Linked DNA regions of Homo sapiens: region 1 is linked to region 2. The links come from fine-mapping of genetic effects on gene expression. A gene starts in region 2. The other region holds a variant in brackets. All regions are shown on one strand. Distances are between the middles of the regions.

Region 1 (15,327 bases), 49 kb before region 2:
GGTTAATGACAATGCAGAATGTGTGGAAACTGCTATACAATAGTTTTATTAGGATTCTAAGATATATAGCTTAGAGCATAAGTATATAGAAAGATGACTAACTGGCAAAGAAAAAAAATCTTTCAGGAAATAAATCAGCTTTCGTAACATAGCAAGACACTGCTTAACCAAGCAGCAGAGAAGCTCAGAGTGTATAGGTGCAAATGAAAAATTAGGTGACTCTTCCCCCTCCTCTACCCTCAAAATCTAGCAGTATCTTAGAAGGAACTAAGAATCCAGTTAGAGGATGTTAAAATACAATACTGGGAAGAGTGTTAGCTGAAGATCCTGTACTTAAACAAAGCTAAGTGGTTTTCTTAGTATTGATTTCAGATCCCAGATACAGTCTTGCGCCTTTAAAAATTAAAAAAACAGAGTACCTAGTATGCAGCACTTCATAGTCCTAGGGTTTTATGGAACATACTAGAAAATGCAGGTATCTACTATCAAACTATCTTTTAACAAATTAGAGTCAAAATTCAGAGTCTGCTCTAGACTTAATATAGATTAATTTACAAGCATCACGATTTAAAGTATGAAGATATAAGACAATTGATTATCCAATGTATGTGAAAAGAACTGATGAGGAAGCATTAGGACCTCCATGTACAAATAAAGGTTCCTGAGGAGATGCTGGAATATTCTTAGAACATGACATTTTTTCAGGAGGATGAAAAGTAACTTACTAAGAAAAAGGCAATATGATTTTTTTCTAACAGGAAATTATAATCTGGTTAAACCAGTGGTTCTCAAAATATGGTCCAGGATCCTTAAAGGTCCCAAGAGCCTTTCAAGGGATCCACTGTTGGGAGAGGTAATCTGCCATGGCCCCTGAGCATCCTGGCACATTTTTGCTGTTCATGTCAGGAATACAAGAATCTCACTGTTCTTTACCGGAGCCTTTTCTTAGGCTTGTGTTTGCAGAGCAAATTTGAAAGACTAGGTAATGTCTCCCTCTTGGACAAAGAGCAGGCATGCTTACTGCCTGCTATAAAATGGTGGGTTCCCCAAGCTCAATATGCCTCTCCTTTAATGTAACCATTGCATGTATAAGCATCATCTGTGTCTGTGTTACCTCCTAGGCAGGACCAATGAAAATAAGATGTTCTTCGCTACTAACTTTACTGTAAATAATAAAGTCCTTTTTCTCTGATTCACTTTTCTGTTTTCCTCCAGTACCCACCCATGAAACAGTAACTAACTTATTAGCTTGTAAGTAGAATAAAATGAAATCCCAGAGCCTGACATAATTGAAATCAACTATTGTCACAATTAAGATATTATTAATATTTGCATTTTTTACTGTGTTGGCATTTAGACTGATGATGCAAAAACAATGAATAAAACTGCTGGTGCCCGAGTATGACTAAGGCCATATCAAACTGTTGTCACTGTATTCTTTAATGTCACACACTCAGTTAAAAAAAAAAAACCAGCAAAAAAAGGCAGTTTCAACTAAGAATGTCCTTAATAAGGCAGTAAAAGTGATTACTTTTATTGAAACTTGATCTCAACATATTTTTAATATTTTGTGTGACAAAATGGGAAGTATACACAAAAGGACTTCTGCTGCATACTGAAGTACAATTATTGTCTTGGGGAAAAGTACTTGTGCAACTATTTGAGTTGCAAGTAAACTGGTTACTTTTCTAATGGAATGCCATTTTTGCTTGAAAGAATGACTGACACACAAGCTATGGTTATTCAGACATTTTCTCAAAAGCAAATGAAGTTAGCCTGTCATGTTAAGGAAAGCAACAGACAAGATTTGTTGCCAATGATAAAATTTGAGCTTTCAAGTGAAAATTAAAATTTTGGAAGACCTGTACCTGTCACAGTAAGCTTGACAGATGCCCAATACTTGAAAGATTTTTCTGATGCAATCAGTGATGATGTTAAATGTGATTTAAAAATATTATATAATAGGTCAACATTTGCAAGATCTACATAACTTAGTGAACCAATATTTTCCAAATGATTGATTCATGATGTTACAGAATCATACATTAGTAAAAGACATACTCAAAGTACAAGATAGACCAACAGCTTTTAATGTAGCAGAAAAGTTCATTGATACGCTTTCAGATTCCATATTGCAGCTAACATTTTAAGACACTACCAAGTTTTAGTGCAGTATCAAAGACTATCCACAATCGCTAAAAAAGCTATTAAAATACTCTTCCCCTTTTCAAATACAATATCTATTTGAGGCTGAATTTTCATCATACAATTCAACCAAAAAAAAAAAAAATAACAGCAGGTTGAATGTAGAAGCATTTCATAACACTGAAAAAAAAAAAAACCTTCAAAACAGATTTAGAGAAATTTTCTTTTTTTTTTTTTTTTGAGACAAAGTCTCACGCTTGCCCAGGCTGGAGTGCAGTGGTGTGATCTTGGCTCATGCAACCTCCATCTCCTAGGTTCAAGCGATTCTCCTGCCTCAGCCTCCAGAGTAGCTGGGATTACAAGCACCCACCATCATGCCTGGCTAATTTTTGTATTCTTAGTAGAGACAGGGTTTCATCACGTTGGCCAGGTTGGTCTCAAACTCCTGACCTCAAGTGATCCACCCACCTTGGCCTCCCAAAATGTTGAGATTACAGGCGTGAGCCACTGCGCCCAGCCAGATTTTGAGAACTTTTAGGATGACAGGTTATAATAATAAGATAAACTAGATGGTTTGTGGGTGCTATAGTTTGGATACTTGTCGCCTCCAACTCTGATTTTAAAATTTGATCCCCAATGTTGGAGGTGGGGCCTAATGGGAGGGGTCTGGGTCATGGGGGCAGATCCCTCATGAATAGAGAAATCCTGGGGGCTGTGGGGGTAAGGATGGCAGGTGAGTGAGTTCTTACTCTTTTAGCCCCTGAGAAAACTGGTTGTTAAAAAGAGTCTGCCACCTCCCCTCTCTCTCTTGCTTCCTCTCTCATCATGGGATCTTTGCAATGCTGGCTCCTCTTTGCCTTCGGCCATGAGTGGAAGCAGCCTGTGGCCCTTGCCAGATGTCAATGTCCAATCTTGAACTTTTACAGATATCAAAATCATGAGCCAAATAAACCTTTTTTCTTTATAAATCCCCAGCCTCAGGTATTCCTTTACAGCAATACAGACTAAGATGGAGGTGGACAGGGGGCTATTCCTTACCTATCAAGGTTTAGAGAACAGCCTTTCATTCCTTGGCCAAGAGAAATCAGGGCTGGATAGACTCTTATCGACTCTATTCTGTGTGCTTTGAAGACAAGTTTTAAATAAAGAGAAGTGTGAGAAAAGGGATGATAGGGGAAATAAGGAGAGAAAAGCCATACTAGAGACATTCGAATTTGCTTCTAAGTTAGGAAAGACAATTTAGAAGGTGACATATCACTTCTTATTTTCTTTTCTTCCTCAAAATTATTTCCAGTATTTTAACAAAAGCAAAAACTGTAAGATGATGTACTGAATTCAAAAACACAAACCCAGAGCAGGAAAGGGTTAGGATTAATTAATAATTTAGATTGGAAACACAGTTTCTGCAATAGAAAATTTCAATGTAATTATTAAAATGTTTTGGATATCAATATTTGTTTTCTTAAGAGTTTGTGTATCAGCCAGGCACAGTGGCACACACCTGTAATCCTAGCACTATGGGAGGCCGAGGCAGGTGGATCATTTCAGGTCAGGCATTTGAGACTAGCCTGGCCAACATAGTGAAACCCCGTCTCTACTAAAAATACAAAAATTAGCCAGGTGTGGTGGTGTGTGCATGTAATCCCAGCTATTCGGGAGGCTGAGGCAGGAGATTCACTTGAGCCTGGGAGGTGGAGGTTGCAGTGAGCCGAGATGGTGTCACTGCACCCCAGTATGGGTGACAGAATGAGACCCTGTCTCAAAAAAAAAAAAAAAGTTTATGTATTATGACTCTTTGGAAAAAACTGAACTTTTAATGAATAAATTGGTTGAAGATAGTTATTTTCCTTTCTAATTAACATTCTACCAGAAAGTCTATAAAAAAGGCTAGTCTCCAGAGGAGTAATACAGAAGCATTATATATAAAAATAGGGTATATATAATGCAGTTTCTAGAAAGAAAACCAGGAGAAGCGGTACATTTGCTTTGGACTGCAAGGCAAGGAGTACCTGAGGTACTACACACAAACACGTTTTTCTCCAGTTCTCTAAGCCCCAGCCTACATTGGCCTGTGCCATTGTACAGTGTGCATAATCACCATTTCTGTATGATAAAAGATAGAAAAGATTAAACATTAAAGGAATTCAGGGGCAAATTTTTAAAAAGTTGAGTAACAAACACATGCAATTACATTTATTTCAAGTTCCTCTTTTAGAAGAGGTGCTATGTGTTTAGATGATGTAAATGAGATTTGGCTTTTCCATAGAAATCACTTAGTAGCTAAATATGTTGACTAACGGCCTAATTTTTAGCTTTTGTTCAAATGATGAAAAACATATTTATCATTTACCTATAAACCATTTTAAAGCTTTTACAATGAATATAAAACCAGGTACCTGGACAACATACAGCAACTTAACAAACAAATGTGGATTAAGGGACTTGCAACAGAAAGTGTCTGGAGTGTTGAGAGAAGCTACAGGGGCCCAAAACTCAGACGAAGATCCCTAAGTGGGCACTGCACTTGAAGTCCAGTGTATATAAGATATGAACAGTGTAAGGATGGGAATGCCATCTAAGACCTAGACCTGTGAGATTAGGATTTTATTAGCTACAGAAGATCAGAAAGCAAAACAGAGTTCAAGTTCATGTACTGCCTGCCAAAACTGCTATACATAATTGAAGAAGCAGACCATGCGTAAATGCCGCTCACTGAAGGACTGTCTATAGAATAAAGTTAAGAAAAAGGTAGAAAGCACTTTCTCCTCTGAAGCCATGATTATGTCAACTAAAAATGGTTATGGTAAATGAAATGGCTCATTCAAAACCCTCAGTTTTAGCTTTCAGTTTACATACATAATATTCTCTCCCAAGTGACCTAGAATAATTCTGGCTCTTGTCTAGAAATTATCCTTTTTCCATCAAAGTCTTGTAGAAAATTTAACTTTACTTATCTATGCACACATAACCAAGATAAAGGCAAGTAAGAACTTGTCTTCTTTTCTGTATTTGAACTTAAACTTTGGGCCCTTGATCAAGCCTATCTTAAGCTCACTGAGAATTTTAATTTTTAAATTAAGGTCCTAAATGTTTTATCTGTGCCATAAAATTATAGTTAGAATTTCTTTTTTTTTTTTTTTTTTAGACGGAGTTTCACTCTTGTCACCTAGGCTGGAGTGCAGTGGCGTGATCTCAGCTCACTGCAACCTCCGCCTCCCGGGTTCAAGCAATTCTCCTGCTTCAGCCTCTCAAGTGGCTGGGATTACAGGTGCCTGCCACCACGCCCGGCTAATTTTTGTATTTTTAGTAGAGACGGGGTTTCATTTTGTTATATAATTAGGACTTTACATTATTTTATAATGCTTGCTAATTGCTGTAGGTCTCCATATTGTCATTTCCCCAACCAGACTATATCCTTAAAGGGGATAGATGTTGTCTATTACAATACTATTGCTATTGCTGTGTTTTGTTTTTTGTATTTCTGTTAATGACTAGCAAGGCTTGGCAAATAGGAGTTCAATAACTACTTCTTGTGTAAGTGATTGACAAATGACTTTTTAGACAACAGCTTTCTTCAAATATGTCAGAGCTTCTATATTTACTTGAAGTTGTCAGGTACAGCACATCTTACTGCTTGCAATTGCCAGCTCCACAGCTATATCACTGTTTATACTATTCTAAACCTAAAAAATCTTTCTTGTTCCTCAAAGCCACCATATCTGCTGATCTAATCACAATGATAGCTATATTCGAAATCTGCAAACTGTTTAACTGACATCTTTCAGTAACTGCACTCGTCATTTACTTGAGTTTTTGATTAACTCAGATGAAAAATAAAGACATGTTTAAAGAACAAATTAGAAATATATAGACATGAGAACACATAAACTCTATTTAATTAGTGAACTCATACCATGTTCACTTCATATTTTGGATCCTAGAATCTGAAATAACTTTTCAACATTCAATAATGTTAATTATTAAATCAAGACTTTAAGCCAGAAGACAGGGACAACATCTCTTTGCTCTCCAGTGGTTGGCAGTGTTAAGTATACATCATGAATTCAGAATTACTGGATAAATGAAGAAAAATAATTTACCAATATCACCAAATTTTTTGTCTTCTATATTATTGCTTTCTACATATTTTCTTGCATCAAACCACCGGAGAATTTTGTATAATTCTCCACAGGAACAAAAAGTAGCATAGAAAGATGAGGGCAAACAATTTCTGTCAAAACCTAGACACTCAAGATAGTATTTAGTTTGGCAACCAAACTATTTCCCAGAAGCAAATTATAAAAATCTCATTTCTGAGATTATATAAGTGACACAGTACATTACAATCCTGGTTTTTAAAAAAGTGAATTAAACTGACAATTTATAGTTTTGTATTTTTATAGAATGTCTTTATATTTGTTACACAAATACAAAACTTGTTATTTAAATAGTAACTGCTAACATGGACATAAGTTACTATGTCTGAAAATGGTGTTCTGTAAACAAGAGATGAATAGTCTTTGTCAAGAATAATTGTGTGCATTTTTGTTATCTGATTTCCTATCTGCATTTTCAGTTTTTAACATTATAAAAAAGAATTAGTAATATGCAACAATTTCTTAGTTCTCTAAGCATTGCTATTATTCTCCTCTGGAAAGTATATTCATATTAGAATTTTTGAAATTGTTCTTCAGATGACAGGCTATGATATTTTTTCCCTTTAGGATTAATAATCACATAATTCAGGAATTTAATTCACTATTAAGTGAATATTAAGTTCCCTTACGTTTCATCAATATTTGTCATAAGGTAAATTAAGTATCAGCCCCCTTGTCTCTTGATCTTTCACATCCTCTTCTGTACACCACAATCTACAATACCTGTGTTGCTTTTAAAATATATCTATGAAACTTAGATACTTTTCCCTTCAAGGGGTGCAGCTTAATTTCTTGCCCCACTACTTAGTGACTTGCTTCTAATGAACAAAATTAAGTGGAAGTGAAGGAATGTGACTTTGAGACTACGTCACAGAGGGCACCTTTCTCTCTCTCAGATCCCTTACTTTGAGTGAAGTTAGCTATCAGTTTGTGCAGAGAGGCTCATATGGAAAGGCCTCCTGCCAACAGTCATGTGAGTGACTCATCTTGGAAGTGGATCCTCCAACCAGTTAAGCCTTCGGATGACTGCAGTCCTTGTCCACATCCTGACTTCAACATAAGAGACCCTGAGTCAGGGCCACCCAGGTAAGTCACTGGGTGAATTTCTGACCCATAGAAACTCAGGTAAATTTGTCGTTCTAAGCCCTAAGTTTTGGGGTAAGTCTGGAATAATATGATAGATAATGCAAAGGACTGTGCAAATTACTGTGGTGTACAAAAGACAAAACTAAGGTTTTCCATTAAACTGAGTATTTCCTTCCCTACTGTCTCAAGCAGAGTACTAAGGGTCATCTAATGATAGAGGCTTTGTCTTTACCTCTTTCTGTCCCTTTAGAAGTCAAAGGATTTTTGCATTCTTTTTGTGTAGGAATAACATGAATAGAGACTGAACTATAAATTTCATGTTTCTTAAGTAAAATTTTCTAAAAGGGCCTCTTTCCCCTTCAAATATCCCTCTTGCCTCTACTTTGTGTCTCTTTTTTCCAAGGCAGCCAGAGTGGCTATTTGCCAAAATGTCCACAAGTCTTTCCCTTCTCAAACATCCTGACAAAACAAAATCCTAAACAAAACAAATTGTCTAAAGAAAACAAATCCTCAAACCACCCACCAAACAGAAGGAGGAAAGCACTGTGGGTGGCTCGTAGTGGCTTCCTTCTGTTACTGGTTCAAAGCATTTCTATTAACTTACTAATTCATTATAGAAGCTAGGCCAATTGATTGGGAATGTGATTTCTAGAAATAGGTTAGTTTTGCAGAAGACCATTAAAGTATATTAAAAATAGAATAAAAAAGAATCATACCATCACCTTAACCATTTCTCTATAATGCCTTCCAGTTCTCATCCATGTGGGTGCATACTTTTAAAAAACTGCAACAGACATGGATTTTTTTCATTGTGGAAGAAGCTTGAATATAACCATATATTCAGAGTTCTTTAGGAAAGGTTTCACCTGTATTAGCTAAAGGTGAATTATAACTCACTAAGTATAGATCAACACATAGGCCAATGGAACATATTTTAATTTCCATTGCTTGATGGGCCAGTATTTTTTCTAACATAGGCCTAATTTTTTACACTAAGCACACAGCCAACTCTCAAATATTCAATAAATCTAATTTATCCATTCTTTTACAATATATTTTCTCTTTTCTTTAATCCCTTATACGTTTAGTGCTCATTAGCACTTTGGCTAGAGATACATAAAAAAAGAGAAAGCTGAACTGCAAGACAGTTAATTTTTATTTTTATTAAATGGTTACAAAGAAAATTGAGTTGATGAACTATTCAAAGTATAAAAATGTGGCTAAAACATAAACCTTTCCCCTATTAGTAAAGATAATTAAGAGAACTCGCTGAAGTTAGGTTTATTCCTTACTTGGAGCTTTTCCTCTTACCGTCTGCCCAAAAATATAGTTATAATTGATGTAATATTATTCACTCTTTGCACACAGGCTATCTCTGAAATGATTTCTGTTACTTAAACTTAATTTCATCCCAGGTATCCAAATATATATTTCACAGATAAAATACTTAGCTTACAGAATTTAAACAAATATAATTTTTAAAAAGATTTCCATTGAAGGTCTGCTTTTGATACTTATTGACTGAAAATAAACTCTAAAACTTGCATAAATAACAAATTATCCAAATTAAAAAAAACAAAACTATTACTATATCTTAGAACTTTTCACATCATCCCTTTTGTTCTAACCAAGGTTTTATTTTCAAAACTACCTTCTACATACTTTAAACTGGAGATATTCTATTACTTTCAAAGGAATGCTATAAATTATTATTAAATTTGCAGTTAAGTAATGGCATTTGGAAGACATTGAAAGAGGAAGATTAGAAATATTGTTTATTTAAGCACTAAATTTATGTCAGTATAGTAATTCAACAATTTTATAATGTACTACAATAGGCCTAGTAAAAAAATTGCATTCCAAAAAGTCAGAATCATTGTTTCTCAATTTCCTCTTTTGCAAAATAAACCTAGTATATTTCATTGCCATGGTTTCTGTGTTTATCAGCATTTTTAGATAAATGAAAATTCGAATGGGGGTGAAGAAAACTGAATGACTCAAAGAATGGTTTAAAATAAAAATATATGTACTAAGGGGTACCAAGAGAACTTCTTATTCTAAAATTTTTATTTATAGAAAAAAGCTCTCAAAATTGGATTTCTCAGATTTGATGTTAAATAGTAAGATAGTCTTAGTTATGCAATCAGTAACTGAATAACCCTAACAAAGTGAAAATCTCCTACTTTATTTAGAAGGAAAGAAATAAATATAGCACTCTTGATTTAATTGTTCTTGTTGATGTTAAGAAACCTTATTTGCTAGGAGTTCGTATTTTATTCAAAATATGTATCGTCCCACTAAAAGCCAACTCATCTCATTAAAAATATCCTTTTCAAACTTATAAAATTTCAATGACTTATGAAAACATGGAGAACAATATAATATACATACATATACTACTGAGTTAACAAGTGTTAACATTTTGCATACTTGCTTGGCTCTCTTCTATTAAAAAAAAAAGTTGCAGATATAACTGCTGAAGCCCTCATTATTCCTTTTTCAGATATCACAGTCTCTTTTCTCCCCAATTCTAGAGGTGATCGTTTTTCTAAAGAAGATGTGTGCCCTTCCTGTACAGGTTTTTATACTTTTATTACATATTTGTGTTTTCACAAACATTAATGTTATGTTTTAAAAACTACATAAAGTATCCTAATTAGCCACGCATGGCAGCATGCGCCTGTAGAATTGCTTGAACCCAGGAGGTGGAGGTTGCAGTGAGCAGAGATTGCACCACTGCACTCCAGCCTGGGTGACAGAGCAAGACTTCATTTCCAAAAAAAATCCAAAAACAAAACAAAACAAAACCAACAACAACAACAAACTACATAAAGTATTCCCATTTTATCATTTTGTAATTTCCATCTTTACTCAACATTGCTATTGAAATTTAGGCAAATTAATATATATTTAGTATATTTTAATTTTTCTAAAGAGTTTCTAAAGATGGACTATTCTATTATTGGTGGATATTTAGGTTGTTTCTAACCCATGGCATGAACGTCCTTGTATATGTCTCCTTGCAGATATGTACTATTTCTTTCTGTATTACTTCAATAGAGTCTTGCTTAAGCTAGTTGGGTGTATTTTTCTTTTAAACTAAGCACAGACTATTGAAGAAAAAGCTAGAAAGCTATTATCTAATCTGTGTCTTATTATTTACCTGATTTTAATCTTTTATTTCATTGTTTATATATATACACACACACACCACACACACACATATATGTACATATGTATGTGGCATTCATTCATTAATTCATTTATTTATTTATTTAGAGATAGGGTCTCACTCTGTTACCCAAACTGGAATGCAGTGTCATGATCATGGGTCACTGCAGCAGCCTTGACTTCTTAGGCCCAAACAATCCTCCTACTGAGTAACTGGGACTGCAGGCGTGTGCCATTCTGCGTGGCTAATTTTTTCATTTTTTATAGAGATAGGGATCCCCCTATGTTGCCCAGGCTGGTCTCAAACTGCTGAGCTCAAGTGATCCTCCCTCCTTGGCCTCCCAAAGTGTTTGAATTACAGGAGTGAGTCA[G/C]TGTGTCCAGCCCTATTTCTTTGTTAAATGTTTTCTTTGTTGAAATGCTTGTGATGTAGAAAAACGGTCAGTAGGAAATACAAAACCTCAGCCTTTATTTTACTTGAAAATAGTTCTTCTATTTAGAAATATTTAAGCCACATATTTGTATATATGGAACTTCTGTTTGGAATTCCAGCAGATCACTTCAGAAAAATAAAATGAGGAAGCTATGTCACGCATCAGCATTTAAATGCTGCTTTCTGCAGAAGCAATGTCTACCTTTGGTAGTTTTTCTCTTGCTATTCCTGAAATCACTTTATCTTGTGGCTGATCAAGAGTCAAATTATTCTTTCTTGTTTCACTGTCTTCAAGCAGAGGAACACAGCCATAATTGTTATCTGCAAGACAAAAACCTCTTGGACATTAGCAGAAAACCCTTATTTTTGGTACCACCTGAAAAAGCAAAAAATAATACAAACTCAAAACCATAAAGAGAATACATTTTAAGGTAGGAGTTTTAGAAAATTCTTTAGGTAATAGTTACTTTGACAAGTTGTCCATTTATATTTTTTCCTTCCCACTAAACAAACACACAAAACCCCTGCTCTCCAAAAGCCAGCAGTATGTAAAATATGCAGAATTTAGAAAACTAGAAATATGCTCTTTGCATCTGTCAGCAACAATTCAACTTTTATATTCACATTTTCAGGTATGCGTTTCTTATTTAAGATAATTATTTGTATTATGACTCCATGCTTATTATGGGAAAATTAGAAAATGCAGACAGCCAAAAAGAATAAAAAGTAAATGCTACCCAAATTTTTATCACCTGTGAATTATTCCAGTTAATATTTTGGTTTATATATTCTATCAGAATTCTTCTTTTCCTATACATATAACTTCACACAAGAATCACCTTTTTCTGCATAAATGAAAAAAACACTTATTTATGTATCCTGCTTTGTTCATTTTGCTATATATCGTCCACATATTCTTACAAGTTAATACCTATTATCATCACTTTTCTTGGCTACATAGCTATTCATATAGATCAGTGTAACTACTGAATATTTGTTTCTAGCTTTCCATGATTAGACATTATACTGTGATACACATCCTCGCATATATATTTTTGAGTACCTGAACAAATATTTTCTTATGATATAGTCTTAGGACTTGAGTTTTTGGTTCAAAAGGCATAGATGTTTTCAAAAGCTTTTGCTGCTATTTACTGGCAAATTGCTTTTTAGGAAGTTTTATAAACTTAGAGTTCTACCATATAGTATAGTATATGTGAAAGTCCACTTTCCCATATCCTGCAAGTGTTCATTTAAATAAACATAACATATAACTGTACCACAGTTATAATATCAAAACTATTGAGAAACAACGAAGGAATAAAATAGAAAAACTCAACTTACACCTTTCTTTTCACCAAGAGGTTCTAGAAATACATAAAAAATTAACATGAACATACCTTGAGTGGAATTCACAAGAAGTAACTGAGATTTTAGCTTGTCAATAATAGTCTGTTGAAGTGACAGCTGTTCCTGTTGTTCACGTATTCTCTGCTCATAGTTCTCAGTCTGCTGACATAAAAACCAGTTAGCCTGATATTCACTGATAGACATGAACATATATTTACCATCCATTGATAATATAAATAGATATGAGTTGCCCACATTGTCATTTTGCAGGTATTGTGATTTATGAGATACAAACTGGCTCCAGGAATGTACTTGTAATTGTTACAAACATCAGTGATTCAAGACACTTAAAGCACCGCAGAAGTTTTAAAGATTAACTTATTTAAAGACATTTCAGTCAAGGATTCAATCTATGATTTCCTGATCCTTCAGTAAGGATCAAAACTGTAATTTAGCATTTATTCCTTAATGGAAAAAAAAAAGCACAAATGATACAACAGATGCTATATTAAAGTGATTCTTTAAAAATACATACTAACTTAAAAAATTAAGATTTTGTGTCTTTCAAATAAACACACTTCTAAATTTATTTTTAGAGTACACAAACACTAAGGAAGTGTTGATACAAATCAAAGGGACAAATGCAAATTATAAAATTATACTGACCAGAAACTTCTCCACTAAGTTTTAAGAAATTAAGAGAATATAGTTGACCTTTGGTGTCTTAAATGCCAGTTTCCCTTATATTGTTAATCCATTAATTTTGCTATGTTATTGCAGTGACTGTGAGAATAAAGCAATGAAAAAAGACACAAGTTTGTACTGAGGAATACAGATGCTGCAAACATTCAAGCAAATTTGAAACTGTTGTATCACAATTACCAAATTAGTACAGTCTTAAAAGCGTATCACCAAACAATAGCAGAGAACTCTTTTTTTAACCAATTTCTATCCCTGGAGGGATAAATAAATAATGACTAAGTTGCAAATTCCTTGAAATATAAAATGAAAATGAAGTTCTAATAATCTCAGAATGATCTTCAGTAGATACTAGATATTTCACTTTAAACTGATTCTTAAAGTTCAAAATTAGTGAAGCTCTATTATTTTCAGAGACCAATAAACTTAAAAATTTTAATAAATTACATAGCTGTTCATAGATTAGCAAATATAAATTAGCTTAAGAAATTAAAGCTTGGGAGGCTGAGGTAGGTGGATCACGAGGTCAGGAGATTGAGACCATCCTGGTTAACACAGTGAAACCCCATCTCCACTAAAAATACAAAAAATTAGCCAGGCGTGGTGGCAGGCACCTGTAGTCCCAGCTACTTGGGAGGCTGAGGCAGGAGAATGATGTGAACCCGGGAGGCGGAGCTTGCAGTGAGCCAAGATCACACCACTGCACTCCAGCCTGGGCAACAGATCCAGACTCTGTCTCAAAAAAAAAAAAAAAAAAAAAAAAAGAAATTAGAGCTAAATACTACATTTTCCCAAATGAAAGGTGAACTTTTATAAGTAATACACTCCAAATATGAATAACTGACAAAGCTGATAAGCAACCCATGTGGTACATTGTCTTTGCACATTGCCTAAAGGCAGTCTTACATAGTTTCACATTCCCCACAGAATTCATATGGATTAAGTAACTTATACATAGGAGATGTTCAGTATATGTTCACTGAAAAATTAAAAAAGGAAATACGGATTCCAATTACATTTTATTATTGTGAACAGAAGAATGAATCATGTAGGTCTACCTGAAGTGCATGTCCAATGAATACGTCTCAGAACTGATCACTGATACCCAAGTCTAGTCTAGGGCCTGGCTTCCCAGGATAAGACATCTTATTCCTGTATAAATTCACACCCAACCCCCTAGAAACAGTGTGGTAAGCTGACTGAATGAAGGATCCAAAAATCTACAGCAAATTCTAAATACCTTAGATTTACTTGGGCTACAGAGCACCACCAGGGCTGAAGAATCAGCAAACAAGTTACAGTCTTCTCTATATATTTCTGCGCTAATTAAAGCTTTCTCCAAGAACTCAAAGTTCTTCACAAACATCAATCAATAAGTACCTATTTTTTTCACTTTATTTTGATAGGTATATACATTATACTGTCCAGAGATTAAGTAACCAGTCCAAAAAACTTAGCAAGTTAGAGACAGGCGCAGAATAAATGCCTATGTTATTTAAGTCTCTATGTCTTTTTTTCCCACCTTAATGAAGAAACCATATATTTTCTTTTGAAACCAACTCAGAAAGCTTCTGCCAGTTAATTTTTATCTTCTATTCTCTGGCTTAAAAAACATACTTTAGCACATCTGCATATAAGATATTACAATAAATAAATAATCCTGAAAATGTATTCAATAGCTAAGAAAAATTAATGGATCAATGGCTATTTCAAATTGAAGTTTTAACTACTTCTTAAGCTACTTAATAAAGTATTATAAAGGTCGAGCAAAGTCTACAATAATTTTAAAAACCAACACTCTGGAAGTATAGTAAGGGAAACAGAACAGCAAGAGTCCATGTTTTCCTCCTACACTTTTCACATACTTGTATTTAGCAGTTATAATATTCTAGTCTAATTGTCTAATGTCTGATTTCCCTCTAGACTGAACTCCTCAAGGGTAGAGAGTATTTCCTCCTGATATCTCCAGAGTATTACAGAGTGCCTGGCACATATTAGGATGCTCAGTAAATATTAGTTGAATAAACAAACTAATTAACTTGTTAAAGAAATATCAGAGTTGAGCAACCCATGCTGCTGCTCTGCCTCTGGAGTAGCCATTCTTTTATTCCTTTACTTTCTTAATAAACTTGCTTTCACTTAAAAAAAAAAAAAGAAATATCAGAGGAACAGATATGCTTTCAGAAATGATCTGAAGGAATGGAGGAATGCTTTTGCTTATATTTCTCTAGAAACACTAAAAACAGAAACAAGGTCAGTAGGTAAATACGACAAAGGGAAACTAAGTTT
Region 2 (15,701 bases):
TAAGGTCTACTTTTTTGTAGGTGGTTGAGACAAGTGTGAGTAATTTGGGAGGCAGGCAAGGCCCCTCTGCTGGGTTTCCCCAACTGCTGAGCCTATTCTGTTTCTGGGTAAATGTTCTGCCAGAGTTCACACTTGTGGTGAGAGACCAACTCAAATCTAAAGCAGTTTCAGGATGGGGAAAGGAAACCACCTTGAATAACTGCTACTCCTTCCACTTTGCCCTAGAAAAGAAAGCCACCAGCCTTTCCCAACCCCTTGGGCTATGAATAAGAGGAGTTCATATTCTATTTCAGAAAAGTTGCCACTGTAGTACATAAAGAGGTGAATCAGTGAATGAAAGACAAATTCTGTGTTTTTGTTTTGTTTTTTGTTTTTTTTTTGAGACAGAGCTTCACTCTGTCCCCCAAGGGTAGAGTGCAGCAAGTGTGGCGGTGCAATCATAGCCCACTGCAGCCTGGACTCCTCGCCTCAAGCAATCCTTCCACCTCAGCCTTCTGAGTAGTTGAGATTATAGGCGTCAAGCCACTGTGCCCCACTACATCTTGGTCTTTTCTGTATCTTAGTTACATGCTTGCCTTCTCACCCACAAAACACATCAGGAGTAAAAAGCAAAAAAATCAGTCAACAACACGACATATACACATAAATAAGACATCTTCTCTTTTGGATGGTTAGGAAGATCTTTAAAGACACTCAAAAATATTAAGTGTGTTTTCCTTACCTGAAGAAAGGAAATGGAAGAGAACTGTCACTACTCACATTTACTTGTGATCATTTTCCACTTTTAAGGAGTTATATAACACAAGCAGCTAATTCCCCAACTGACCTCTTGCATTTCTATTCTCCTTCCACATTGTAAACTTTGGTCATGAATATACCCATAGCATATTGTACTACGCTGTTTCTGTGCTCCATCCAGGCAGCTGATATAATAGAAACCTTAAATATCATAAATCCAGCAGTGTTAGAATTTGAATTTTGTATTTTTCCATAAGCTGGAAGGCTAAATGCAACAGGATAAACAAGACAGTCTCACTGGTTAAACCCAAAGGTCCCCAGTACATGTTCTCCATTTTGCTGGATGTTAGAACTTGGTGAAATTTTCTATGTGATCTTGCAAGAGCTAAAAGATTTCACTGTCAAAGACCACACCCATGAGTCTCAGTTTTGCCTTACTTCCTTTTTTTCTCCAGTAATACTTCTTTCTCTGAGACTATTTATCAAATGTTATGGGTTTAAGTGCACAACTAAACAGTATAACACCAAAAGGGAAAGCAGGCATGTGATGTTCTACTCCTCTGAGGTGAACGTAAACATGGCACTGCTCAGTTGGCTGTGCTGAACTGAGTAATCTTTAAGGGGTATCCTCTCCTCTGACTAGGGGCAATGTTAGAATCTGAAGATGGGGGAGGAAGGATATACAATTTTGAAATAGTTAATATTAAAAATCTATTACATAAATCATATAAAGAAGGACTTTGCATAATATTCACAGATGAGGGAACTAGAAGAGAAAGTCTGTAGTCAGTATGGTGAGGTGTAGAGGAGGAGTAGGACTGTATGGGAAGGAACATGTATTACAATCCTCTAGGATTTGTGAGATTTTAATGTTTATCAGAAAGGAAATATGGATTTTTAAAGGTTGAGAAACAACAATCTCAAGGGAAAGGCATTTCTACTTTTGGGATTCCAAATACTTGAGGTTATGAAACCACATTCCAGTAAATGCCACATAATAAATGGTTGTGAATAGTAAAACCACTTAAATCTCTCACAATAACAGTTGATTTGCTGATTCCAAAAATCCTTCTTCAAGCAATTAAAAAAAATCCTTTATTTTGAAAGAATCTAAGTCTCTAACTTCTGTCCCTTATAGCAAGTCACTCTCTGGAAAAACTATTACCTGATTGGGTTGTTTCGCTGTTCAATAGAACAATTCTCATACTGCAACTATTTCAAAGACTCTCATAAGTTCAACTTGCTAAGTAACCATCAAAATGGAACTCATATTAATTTTCTTTGTCTACTCAATTTCCAGTAATTCCTTACTGCAATGACTTAAAATACTTTGTTGTCAATGTTAGCAACCTATTTTCAGTAGACCCTTCCTTTTGCAAAAAAAAAAAAAAAAAAAAAGTATTGGTGTTAAGTAAAAGCTATTATAGATCACTAGTACTCAAAATGTTTACTCTCATAACTTACTACTGATAATTACCATTTATAGAGAATATATCTCTGAAGGTAAAAAGTTACTGTCCAGGAAATTTTCCATGAGACAAACAATTGCCATCATTTACTTCCCAAACTCTTTTCCTTAAGAAAAATACGTCCCTTTAAAAATGTTTTTCTTGGTTGCATAGCAATGTGAATGCACTTAACATTATTGAACCATATACTTTAAAAAAAGGTTAAGATGGTAAATTTTATGTTATGTGAATTTTACCACAATTTAAAAAGCTTTTATAGATTAGGAATTGGAAAATGTGACACATGTACTACATAAGTCCCAAAGCCTGTTTTCAGTTGCATAGGGCTTGGTACCAGTTACCCTCAACTTATTTGAACAGTGACCAAATACTGCACTTAGTTCAAAAGACTTTGAAAATTAATTAACAACTCACTGAAAAGGTAGTTCATTTCATATTCTGTTATCCCTTCCTGAAGATAATCATAATCTTGGTTCCGAACTATAAAGCGATTTTTGTTACATATCTAAATAATAGCCTCCTCTTTCCCTGTATTTATGATTCAAAACCATGGCAGCAAGCATAGGAGATAACAGGTGGGAAATGGCAGCCACAGCATAAATCCTACAGGAAATAGAAACTAAAACTAGGCTTTACGTAACTGAACACAAACGAACTGCAATTAAACAGTAATATTTTATGCTTATAAGGTGTTAGAAAACAAAAAGGATAAACAGTAACAGTCAATCAGCTAATGCATAGCATCGAAATAGCGAAGCTTTATGTCAACAGTCTATTTTTATTTACCATTTGCTTTTGGACAAAGGTATGGTTTTAAAAAACATGCAGTCTTCTTTCATCATAGGGCAACTCCCCAATTATTTTTGCTATAGTAGCCCATAAATGGAAATAAAATACCCACGCATTCACATAATGCCTGCATCCTACTGTTAGTAACGCTTCAGTGTCTGTAGGTATCCTCCACAGTTCATAGATGCAAACTGCTAAATTACATTACCTGTCTCAGGTCATATTCTTGAAGGTGATCAAAAAGCATTTGAAATAATCATTTATAAAAGTCTATCAAAGATTACACTATTATCGAGGTATTAACAGTAAACCATTAGTCAAGTAAAAAGGTGGGCTTCTGTTAGATGACAGCACTGCCCCATGTGCGTGCACATACCATGCACATACCTGAACTATGCTAATGATTTTCACTTCATGTTAAATAAGTATAAGCATGTTAAGCTTGTATATTTTTTCACCCACTCATTTTGAAACCCTCTGTAGGATTTGGCTACAGTAAAATGTCAGCTTGGTTATTACCTTTAAATTAAGAAATTTCCCGGCAAAATTGGGAAGCTAGTGACAATAAAGTGAAACTGATGCTTTCCCAGTTGAGTTTCACTCTTGGTTTCTTTCAGGGCATAGACAAATTTGCCCATGTAGAAGCAATACCCTTGCTTCTGTAACATAACTGAAGAAGAGAAGAGAAAGAATAGCAAGACATTTTACTTAACAGCCTCAGCCTACCTACAGCATTTTTCCTTGTCCATGAAAAAAAAGTTGTGTGTAGGGGGGAAATAACCAGCATCAGTACAGCAGCTGTTCTTAGTTCTTGACATTACCGTGTCCCAGACTCTTTCATTCAATTGTATTTACTCCAAGGAGTTTTTGTTTGTTCTGAACCATTTTGCTGAGTATTGTTGCTGTCTTAAGAACAATGAACTCCCAGACCCACATGGTTTCATGAGTGAATTCTTTCAGATCTTCAAAGAGCAGAGTTCTTAGGCTATTTAAACTACATCAGAGCGGAGGAAGAGGAACTCTGCCCAGTTCTTTTTAGGAACCAGCATAACCTTGATACCAAAACCTAGCAAAAATAACAGAAAAAGGTGAGTATAAAATGAATCTCAATCATTGATTTTAAATAAAAATGCTACCAAAGGAACCAATATATACTTAAATATTACACCATGACCAAGCGTAAGATTGGTTCACAAACTGCAAATATACTAAAGTAATTCACTATCCTGTTAGGTCAAAGATGAAAAGTACCTATGAAAGGTTATGATAGATGTCAAAAAGCCATTTGACAAAATCCAACTTCCATTCCTGATAAAAATGTTAAGAAGTAATGAATATACACACCAAATGAACATCCAATATCTATTATTTAAAATTGTTCTCAAAGTGCTATCTAATACAATAGACACTCCCCATCCCCAGTTGCAAAAATGACTTTGGATGCAATCCAAACAGTTCTCTGCAAAAATCACAATGAGCTAGAAATATTAAAGGAAACTTCCCTGATAAATATAATTTATTAGATATTAATAGTAACTTCATATTTAATGATGACATAATAAAAACATCCCCAAACTAAGAAACAAGATAAAGGATGGCCAGAATCACTGTTTTATTTACCACTATTCTGGGGAAGCCAGCAATTCACTAAAGCAAAGAAAGAAAGAGATAAGATGAATTATAATTAGATGATTGTTTTCCTAGAAAATTCAAGTGAAACAATTTATTAAAATTAATAAATTTAGAAAGTTGGCCAGATACATAAACACTCATCTACATACCAGTCACAAAATATAAGAAAATATAATGGTTAAATCCCAAAAAGAGTATTTTAATGAAGCATGAACAGTTTATGTTAAATTTTATCTCAAAGATAATGCAATTATATTCAAGAAAATTTTGAAAAGGAAAAATGAAGAGGGACTTGTCCTATGAATTACTAGAAAACGTAATATCAAAGCAGATTGGTATTTTTAAAGGAAGAGACAAAAAGATCAAAGCAACAGATGAGTCTAAAGAAAAGATGCATGTACACTTGAGAATTTACTATATTAAGGAGGTATTTCTAGTCAGTTGGGAGAGAAATGATTTCAACAAATGATTTCAGGAAAAAATGGCTGCCTAGTCATAAAAACAAAGAAAAAAATTAAATCCTTATCTTAGCATACAAAAATCATTTTCAGATGTTTTAATGAGTAAATCATAAAAAGAGAATTAACAGGCAATATAGGAGAAGATTTTAAGAATTTTTGAGTGGGGACTACCTTCTTACCTGAGATAAAAAGCCTGGGCATTTTAAACCAAAGCATTGATAATTCTTGAAAATATTTGCCATATATTTCACAAAGGATTAATGAAATCTGTAGTCTAATGAGAAACAGATAATTTTGAAGAATACTGGGCAATATATACGGACAGGACATAGTAAGTGACAGTTAACTATAATTTGGTACATCTACACAATGCAGTACCACGCCAACATTACAATAAAATAGAGCTACATATGGCAAGACTTTCACCATATATATATATTTAATCTGAAACAGATTATCGAACAGTATGCATAATCTCATTTTCATAAGAAAGCAAAATAACATGGTTATGCACATACAGGAAAGATGTGGAAGGCTTGGATTACAACTGGGGAGAGGACTGAGAAGGATTTCACTTCCTGCTTTGCACATAGTTGTATTATTTGAGGATCCCTCCTCTCTCAAATGAGGACACAATAATTTTTAACAGAATGCACTGCTTGCTTCTCTGCTACCTCTCGTTTGGGTGTGTATTCCAACCGCGGTAAGAAGGCAGGTCATTTTCTTTTCCTTCAATTTCACGTCGCTTCTTCACTTCCTTTACTACCATCTCTCCCTTATTATAACTTGTCAAAAGCATCTCCTGTGAGGTGAGATAAACACCACTTTACATAGCAAGGCTGCTTTACTTTTGCTCGTTATAGCATAACAATAAAGGCACAGCTCTTCTTTGATTATCCTCCCCCTTTCTACTTCTAGAAAAGCACAGCTTTTTTGCCTGTAACTCGTTGCTAGTCAGTTTACACCGGCGTGAGGACTCTACCTAACGCCTGGGTTCCCACTGTGGGCGGGGTTGGCTTCTGTTCTTCCTGCCTTGGCCACCCACTCCCTCCGTGACCCTCTGGGAAGTTACCCAACTTCTCATTGACCAGGCTATGATGACACCCCACAGGAAGGCAGAGGGGAATTGTGCAACCACCTTGGGAAAACAACAGAAAGAACCAATTAAGTTTTCGAAAGAGTAACCACGATACTACTTGATTCTAGGAGGCAGTCTCTCTCCCGAAGGGAAGTCGGGAATGTTCCTGGAGGGTCCACTGCTCACCTCGACACCGCAGGCCCTTCCACCCCCATTTCCCGGGCAAAGCAGCCGGGACGAGTCCCTCCCTTGAAGCCGTTGGGGCAGAGGCCGACGATGCTATGCTGACATCGCGGGCCCGGAAACCAACCCACAAGGAGTCCGCTCCGGGGGAAGGACTCGCGTGGTTTCTCCCGCACAAAATCCCTCCCCAAACTGCAAATTGGTTGTCTCCGCTGCTCCTCGGCTTCTCTCCCTGCGGCGCCCCTACTGTCAGCGCGTCCCTCTCGCTCACGCATACAAATTCTCCGACGTCGTGCTTGACGGATTCGGACACACCAATTCACAAAGTTTCTTACTCACACAGTTCACGCTTTCAGCTGCGTTCCCTCTCCCCTCAGGTCGCCGGCGCCTGGCCGAGTGACTCCAACCGGAAGTTGCATTTTGTTCCAGTTCAGAGGGCAGTGCCTGCGCGCGGAGCCATTAACTCTTCACCTCCACCCAACAAGGCCAGGGCCCTTCCGCCCTGCCCCACCCAGCCCAGGGCTCTTCTGCCCCGCCCCTGCCCGCCCCGCCTAGCGCCCTCCCCCAGCCCTGCCCAGCCAAGTCCCCGCCTCTTAGAAAAAAAAAGCGTCAGCAGCGGAAGAGAATCCTATGTCAAGTGTAAAGGTCACTTGTGAGTCTTTGCTGGATTTTTTTGCCAAACGATAAATAACCGGTAAATAAATAACCAGTAAATAAATAACATCACCCTATATATGAGTTAGAGTACACAAGAATCACCTGAGAAACAAAATGTAGTTTCACCAACCGACTCCTACAGCTTTCATTTCAGAGCAACTGGAGTGAAGCCCAGGAACCTGCATTTTCAACAGATCCTCGTAAATTTATGTAATTAAACGTGGTTAAAGTCCACACTCTGAGAAACACTACATATACACATACCCATTTGGTTTCTCCCCAACTGGTAGTATTTTTCACTAAATGTATTTGTTAAAGAGGAATGGCTGGAAATGGAGGTGGAACTTTATTAGAAAATTTCCCATGAATTAAGACTTTCCCATTATTCCAATTCCTAGCCATGCATGAATATTATCTAAGATTCATATCTTAGATACCGCAAGAAAGATATCTTTTCCCTTTAGGGCAAGAGGATGAGGTCTGGCTGCCCCAATTTCTCCCTGTATTTCTGAATCATGGATGTTTACACATCTTTCCTTAGGCCAGTAAGTCCAAGGATTTAAAAACCTGCCAAGTTGCAGTGCATTCTGTCTAGTTATCTTGAATGTTGCTGTATACTTTTAAAAGTCAAAGCCTAAATATATTTGAAACAATGTTTTTAACAAACAGAAACTTCTTATATATAACGTTTTGACCAGTTGAATAGTTTTCTTGTAATAAGTAATTGAGTTAAACATCACAATACAGTACTGCTTTAAAAAAATTATTTAAACTTTTTTTGAGGGCAGTTTTAGATTCACAGCAAAATGGAAAGGAATGTCCAGAGATTTTCCATATACTTTCTGCCCCGACACAAGCATAGCCCTTCCCCATTATCAACATCCCTCACCCCAGTGTGATGAAAAAAAGCTGTTATAAATATCTGTGTGCAGGTTTTTTTGTGCGGACATAAGTTTTCATCTCCTTTGGATAAATACCAAGTAGTATGATTGCTGGATCATAAGGTAAGAGAATGTTTAGTTTTGTAAGCAATTGCCAAATTGTCTTCCAAAGTGGCTACCATTTTGCATTCCCACCAGGAATGAATAAGAGTTCCTGTTGCTCCAAATCCTTGCCAGCATTTGGTGTTGTAAGTGTTCTGGATTTTGGCCATTCTAATAGATGTGTGTCATATTTTATTGTTGTTTTAATTTGCATTTCCCTGATGACATATGACGTGGAGGATCTTTTCATATGGCTATTTATTTACCATCTGGTTAACTTCTTTGGGGAGGTAAAGGCCTTTGGCCCATTTTTTAATCAGGTTGTTTTCCAAATGTTGAGTTTTAAGTGTTCTTTGTATTTTTGATAAGTCCTTTATCAGATATGTCTTTTGCAAAAAATTTTCTCCTTGTCTGTGGCTTGTCTTTTTACTCTCTTGACAATATCTATTGCAAAGCAGAAATTCTTAATTTTGATGAAGTCCAGTTTATTCAGCACTGCTTGAGCAAATTAAATAAGCTGATTTGAAGATTTCTGATTGAAATAGTGGAATTTAGTAATATACTCAGAGTCTAAAGCTGAATGCATAGGCATTTTGAAATATGGAGGTGCTAAAAACTTTGAATAAGGAAATAGCTAGATATACACATTTCTTAAATGCGTATTTTTCTCTTTCCACTTCCATGATGTTGTAGTCTTGAAGAGAAGTGGCTGCATAATTCCCCTGTATGTGAAATATGCATAAATGCTGGTAGAATTATTTTGTAATCAATGCTAAAATGGCATCAAACATTTTCCTTTTCCTATAATGATGATTTTTTAAGAATTCACATACAGTATGTTTTACAAAGGTTAGAAATTGAGTTGACATTTATTTGAGGAATAATCTTTTAAAATAATGACATAATTTTATTCCAATTTTCCTTCACTCATATTATTATATACCTCAAGTTAGTGAGCAGTGATGTGGCTTTGGAGGTTGGGTATGGTGGCATGAAAATGGGGAACTGACCAGGTGTGGTGCTCACACATATAATCCTAACACTTTGGGAGGCCAAGGGCAGAGGATCACTTGAGCACAGGAGTTTCAGACCAGCCTGGGCAACATAGTGAGACCACGTCTCTATTTAATAATATTAATTAATGAATTATTATTAAAAGAAAATGAGGGAATTGCAGGCCTTTAAAAGATATTTTGGAACCTGGACGGGTGCAGTGGCTCACGCCTGTAATCCCAGCACTTCGGGAGGCCAAGGCGGGCTGATCACTTGAGGTCAGGAGTTTGAGACCAGCCTGGCCAACATGGTGAAAACCCGTTTCTGCTGAAAATACAAAAATTAGCCAGGTTTGGTGGTGCACACCTGTAATCCCAGCTATATGGGAGGCTGAGGCAGGAGGATCACTTGAACCCGGAAGGCAGAAATTTCAGTGAGCCAAGATCACGCCACTGCACTCCAGCCTGGGCAACAGAGAGAGACTCTGTCTCAAAAATATTTTGAATCCTAGTTTTAAAACTGCTTAATAATTTATTGAGACTTCTGAATATAAACCTAAGGACAAGGAAACCTGGCAATATAAACAGTTACTATGACTTGGAATGTCAGTTATGTTCTCAGTCAAATCTTTGATGTGCAATATCACTATTAATGGAATCTGGTTGACTTCTGATTTACGATGACATCTGGACTGGCTGATTATATTGCAGACTCTCCAACTAAAATGGCTATGAAAAATCAGAAAAACATGAGAACTCACAATGGCCTTGGAAGGCAGACTGACAACCAGGGCCACTGTGTATGGTTGAGCAGGCTGTGCTCAGTTGCAAAGCCTTGCCTCCTTCAGCCTGTGTCTTCTCAGAGAGGTGCTTTTTCTAACTCACAGAAAAGTACCATAAGAGCAGCTATAACCCTGTTGACAAGCACCCTAGTTCCAGAATTTGATAGGATACTGGACTTATTGCAAGAACTGTGAAGCTGAAATGGACATGTACTTTTTTGTTGGAAGGCAATCAAAGGTGTTGGTATGGAAGGATAGTAAGGAAGCTACCTGCCTCACGGCCCCTACTAGTAATTCCACTACTATGTGTGATGGCTAAGAAGTATTTTACACCTCTTTGCCCTAATCTCTCCCATTAGTTTCTCCACTCTATGACCCATTTTGGAGCTACGGCCTAGAGAATACCAGCAATAACCCAAAGGGAGTGGATAGGTGTAATGCTCTGTGTCCAAGCTTAGGAAACTAATAATGAAAGGGGTTGGGCAGACAGAACTGGGTGTTTGTTTCTCTGGGGGTTTACTTTTTCATATATGGTTCTTATCAAGAAAAAGACAAATCATTGTTTCTGATTAACCAGGAATTCTTCTCTTTATAGTAAAATAACTAGCTATTAAAGGTAAGGAATCTCACCTCAGCCCAACACCCGCAGTGACAAAGTTGATAAATGTCAGCTTCAAACCAAAAAGTTAGCTGTTGACTGTGCATGTCTATATGTCTTCCAGTTCAACATCTATGCTGAAGAACTTAATAGCATCAGACAGATAATGAGAAGAGCCAAGAACCAAAATCCACACATTCAGGTAGTAAGGTTGACACAAGGCTTGGAACGAGTAATTCAAGAGAAAGCATCCCTTTGAAAAGATTATGCTGTCTGAAAGAGAGTCTTCAAAATACAAAGAAAGTGAATACTTTGGAAAATTATTTACCAGAAGCAGAAGTATATGGAGAGAATCTGCTTTGTATTTTCTATGCAAAAAGAGATGAAATACATGATAAGCTATTAGACTAAGATAAGGAGGGAACTAGAGACAAGGTGAAATAAAACCAAAGTTGGATAAGTTAAGTCTGTAAGGACACAGAACAACATGCAATGGCAAAATTCACATATAATTTGGACATAATCAAAGATGGAATCAGTATTGCAGAATAATAAATCAATGATTAGAGTAAAAGCTTGAAAAACTCTTCCAAAATATGACTGGAAAGTACAAATAGGTGACAACCATTAAAGGAAATGGTAGAAAGATTATGCCCCAACTTCTTCCTGAAGAAGAAATTGGGGTAAATAGAACAGAGACGGCAACCACAGATATATCAGAAGCTATCTGAAGTAATACTTTGAACCAATACAATACTTTGTAAAAATGAAAAGGACTCAATGTGTTTTGAAATATATTAATGACCTATCTTGTTAAAAATTTCAATATTAAATGCCCTATCAAGTCATTAATTTAATCAGTGAATATTTTGGGAATATTTGCTATGTGCTAAGAATTAGGGATAGAAAGATCACTAAGACACTGTCCTACCTTTAAAGAACTTGGTGTCTATACTGGGTGACATACATACAAGAATCAGGCAATTACTATACAATGTGGTATTATGATTTTTACATTAGGGGTAATATATGGTACTCTGAAAACACATTGGAAAGTCCATCATCCAGCCTTGAGAGGGTGAAGGAAGGCTTCTGGTATCTAAGTTATGGAAAAAGTTCGACAAGAATCCAGGTGGAAAAAAAATTAATTGCAAAGGAAGAAAAACTTGTCTTCAGCAGTAAACTTCAAAAGCTGAATAGAATAACATCTACAGTTGCCTGGGAAAGATTTGACCTATAGTGTCTGCCTACTCAAGTTATCATTTATTCAAGAAAAGGAAAACAAAGACATTCTCAGATACCTCAAGGTTCAAACATCATACCACCCATTTTCTGAAACAATTGAAGATATGCTTCCCTTATTCGAGAAGGAGTCAAAATTAAAAACTCAAGAAAGGTGAAATTTTGATATAAAATAAATATTAGGAAACATTTGAAATAATTTAAACATAAATTAAAAACATGTTGCAACTACAAAGCAATGGAAAAATGTAATTTTTGACACATAAGATATAAATTATTACCTAATAAATAATTTAATAATAATAATATGGTCACAACTTTCTGATTACAGCAACAAATATGCAAGTGGGTGGGAGAGAGGTGGCAGGAAGTAAATGTGTTCTGCTATTTTACTCATTTTCTAATCTATATATAGAAATAAGAAAATTACAGGATCTCATTCTAATAATTGAAGATGTATCATTTTAGTTTTTTTAATATGAAGATAAATAACTACAAGTAGAATTTAAAAGTGTACGCTTGTTTTTGGCTGCACATTGTAGCTCACACCTGTAATCCCATCACTTTGAGAGGCCAAGGCAGGCAGATCACTTGAGGCCAGGAGTTCGAGACCAGCCTGGCCAACATGGAGAAAATTCATCTCTACTAAAAGTACAAAAATTAGCCAGGTGTTGTGGTACACGTCTGTAATCCCAGCTACTCAGGAAGCTGAGGCACAAGAATCATTTGCACCTGGGAGGCGGAGGTTGCAGTGACCTGAGATGGCACCACTGTACTCCAGCCTGGGCAACAGAGTGAGACTCTGTCTCAAAAAAAAAAAAAAAGTGTATGCTTAATTTTTATGTTAATAGAGGAAGAAAGAAATTAAAACATTGTCCACATAATAAAGATTTAAATATCTTAATTCCCAACATTCAATCAGTCACCCAATCAGGTACATCATGTGAGTACTCCTCTGCAGTATTTCTTGCATGCTTACACTCTATGTCCCCATTGCTACTATCTATCTCCATTCCTACCCGTTGTTCAAGCCACCATCAACTCATAGTTTCAATGCTAACCTCCTAATTGTTTGCCTCACTTTCTCCCTTGTCAGATTCTATGTTGTTATGTTTCTTTACCACCTACAACTATTAAATGTCTTCCCCTCACCTTTAGAATAAAATCCAAAATCTTAATCCTGGAATAAGGCATCTTCCTAACTCTCCAGACTTATGTCCTGCTGCTTCTTCCTGGTGATTTTGGGCTTCTTTTAATACCTTAAGTGATCACTCTTTTGTCCTTTTCAGGTATTTGCTGCTTTCCTCAGCCTAGAACATGTTTTCCTCATATTTTACCTGGTCTGTTGAGTCCTCTACTGAATGATCTGATTCTAAGCTAGGCCACACTTGATTTCCTTTCTAGGTTAAGACTGTGGGCTTAGCTGTGGGCTCCTATTTTACCCTGTCCTTTCCTCTTTATGACATGCATTATGCTTGAAATTTCAAGATACATATTTGAATGTTTTTAAGCTTAGGATGGCCATTATGACTGATATTAGAGAAACTTATACTCACTAGGCAGAGTCCTAGGTTATCATTGCCCCCACGAAGGCAAACTACAGCTGAGAGAAGCTAAAGCATGATGATTGTAAGTGAGAGTTCTGTGTTAAAGTTGCCTCGTTCATATGTTGGTATTGCCATTTACTAATCATATGACTTTACTAATCCTGTGCCTCAGTTTCTTTTCCTGTCAAAGGTCGAGTGTACTTGTCCAACAAAATAATGTATGAACAAGATCTGGCCTACAGGAGGACTGCAGTAAATATTGGGTAATATAGAAAATTCCTGTAACTTAGTAGGTGGTTCTACATGCAGTTGATTTTTTTTTTTTTTTTTTTTTTTTGAGACAGGGCCTCACTGTTGTCACCCAGGCTGGAGTGCAGGGCAGGATCTTGGCTCATTGCAGCCTTGACTTCCTGGGCTCATGTGATTCTACCACCTTATGCTCCTGAGTAGCTGGGACTACAGACGTGCACCATCATGCCTGGCTAATTTTTGTATTTTTTGTAGAGACAGGGTTTCACCATGTTGCCCAGGCTGGTATTAAACTCCTGAGCTCAAGAGATCCATCTGCCTCTGCTTCCCAAAGTGCTGGGATTACAGGTGTGAATAGGGATCACACCCAGCCTGATTTTTAATTTAAATAAAAAGTCATAATTATCACTTAAAATGTCTTTAAAAGTTCATACTGAGAAGGCCTCTATATTGGACTTAATAGAAAAAGACTTTCAATCAGTTGCCTTAAATATGCCCGAAGAACTAAAGAAAACCATGGACAAAGAACTAAAAGAAATCAGGAAAATGATTTATGAACAAAAGGAGAATATAAAAACATGATATAAATTATAAAACAGAACCAAATAGTAATTCTGGAGCTGAATGGCACAATAACAAATGGAAAATTAATTATAGGGGTTCAATAGCAGATTTCAGCAAGCAGAAGAAAGAGTCAGAGAATGTGATAAGATAGTTAACATCAAGCTTACCTTCTATGCATTGTGGGAGTCTTGAAGGAGAAATGAGAGAAATGAAGCAGAAAAAATATTTCAAGAAATAATGGCTGAAAACTTCCCAATTTGCTAAAAGTCTGAACCAGCTTATTCAAGTTGCTCAATGAACTCTAAGTAGAATAGACTCAAAAAAATCCACACTGAGGCATTATAATCAAATTATCCTTTAGCTCTTTGGGCATATTTAAGACAATTGACTGAAAGTCTTTTTCTAGTAAGTCCAATATCTAGACCTTCTCAGTGTGAATTTTTAGACATTTTAAGTTATAATTATGGCTAATTATTTAAATTAAAAATCAAATGCATGTAGAATCACCCACTAAATAACAGGAATCATTTATATTACCCAGTATTTATTGAGTTCCTTCTGTAGGCCAGGTCCTGTTCATATATTATTTCATTGTACAGATACTCTCAATTTTTGAGGCAATTTTTGAACTGAGGACAAAGAGAGAATATTGAAAGCAGCAAGAAAGAAGTGACACATTATGTGCAAGGGATCATCAATAAGATTAACAGCCAATTTTGCTTTGAAACTATGAAGGCCAGAAAATAGTAGAATGACATATATAAAGTGCTAGAAAAAAGTGTAAACCAACAATTCTATAAATGGCAAGACTATCCTTCAAAAATAAAGAAGAAATTAAGACATTTTGAGATAAATGAAAGCAGAAGGAGCTTGGTGTTAGTAGACTTACCCTAAAGAAATGATAAAGGGAGTACTTCAGGCTGACTACTAGGAGATAATTTGAGGCCATACAAAGAAATAAAGAACTTCAGTAAAGACAACTACATAGGTAAATATATTAAAGCTAGGATAATTGTATTTTGGTTTGTAACTCCTCTTTTTATTTCCTATATGATTTAAAAGACAAATCCTTAAAAATAATTATCAATCTGGCACACAACTTATAAAGATATAATTTGTGACAACAACACGTAAGGGGTGATTAAGCTGCTTAGTAGTGGAGTGTTTGTATGTTACTGAAACTAAGTTGGTATAAGTTAAAATTAGGTTGTTATAAATTTAGGTTGTTAATTGTAACTCACATGGTAATGACTAAGAAAATATTTTTTAAAAATCACAAAAGAAAATGAGAAGGGAATAAAATGGTATACCACTAAGAATAAGCTAAAATACAAAATAAGACAGTATTGGAAGAAGTGAGAAATAGAAAAATGGTATAGAACATACAGAAATCAAATAGCAAAATGGCAGCCGTAAGACCTTCCTTATCAATAATTACTTTAAATGTAGATGGATTAACCTCTTCAATCAAGAGGCAGAGCTTGGCAGAATGGATAATACAACATGATCAAATGATCAAATCATATGTTATCTGCAAAGGACTTAATTTAGATGCAAAGACCAATAGATTAAAGTGAAATTATGGAAGAAGATTTTTCATGCAAACAGTAACCAAAAGAGAGATGGCGTGGCTAAACTAATATTAGATAAATAGACTTTTAGTAAAAAACTGTTACAGGAGACAAAGAAGGATATTATGTATTGACAAAAAGATAATTCATCAAGAAGATATAGCAA

Which allele goes with the higher level. Positions count from the first base shown, and alleles are read on the strand shown. Sizes are in standard deviations (SD) of each study's normalised expression.
In carriers of allele C in region 1, the expression in testis of the gene that starts at base 6,886 in region 2 tends to be higher than with G alone (moderate effect, 0.54 SD a copy in GTEx).

Evidence for each region.
Region 1: its variant is fine-mapped to the expression of TANK-AS1 in testis (GTEx, PIP 0.95).

Annotation. Positions count from the first base shown.
Region 1 is chr2:161,200,658-161,215,984 of GRCh38, reverse strand. It overlaps TANK (TRAF family member associated NFKB activator), which reads right to left. Exons shown (of 8, transcript NM_001199135.3): 3 at 12,390-12,498; 4 at 11,192-11,310. Among named protein-coding and RNA genes, the nearest start is that of LINC01806, 36 kb to the left of the region's middle. The variant G/C (reference allele first, on the strand shown) is at 10,931.
Region 2 is chr2:161,151,475-161,167,175 of GRCh38, reverse strand. It overlaps TANK-AS1 (TANK antisense RNA 1), which reads left to right and starts at 6,886. Exons shown (of 3, transcript NR_187173.1): 1 at 6,886-7,044; 2 at 7,940-8,011. TANK (TRAF family member associated NFKB activator) reads right to left here and starts at 6,748. Exons shown (of 8, transcript NM_001199135.3): 1 at 6,690-6,748. RefSeq lists a cis regulatory region at 18 and enhancers at 1-103, 14-403, 414-463, 2,685-2,854, 6,275-7,038.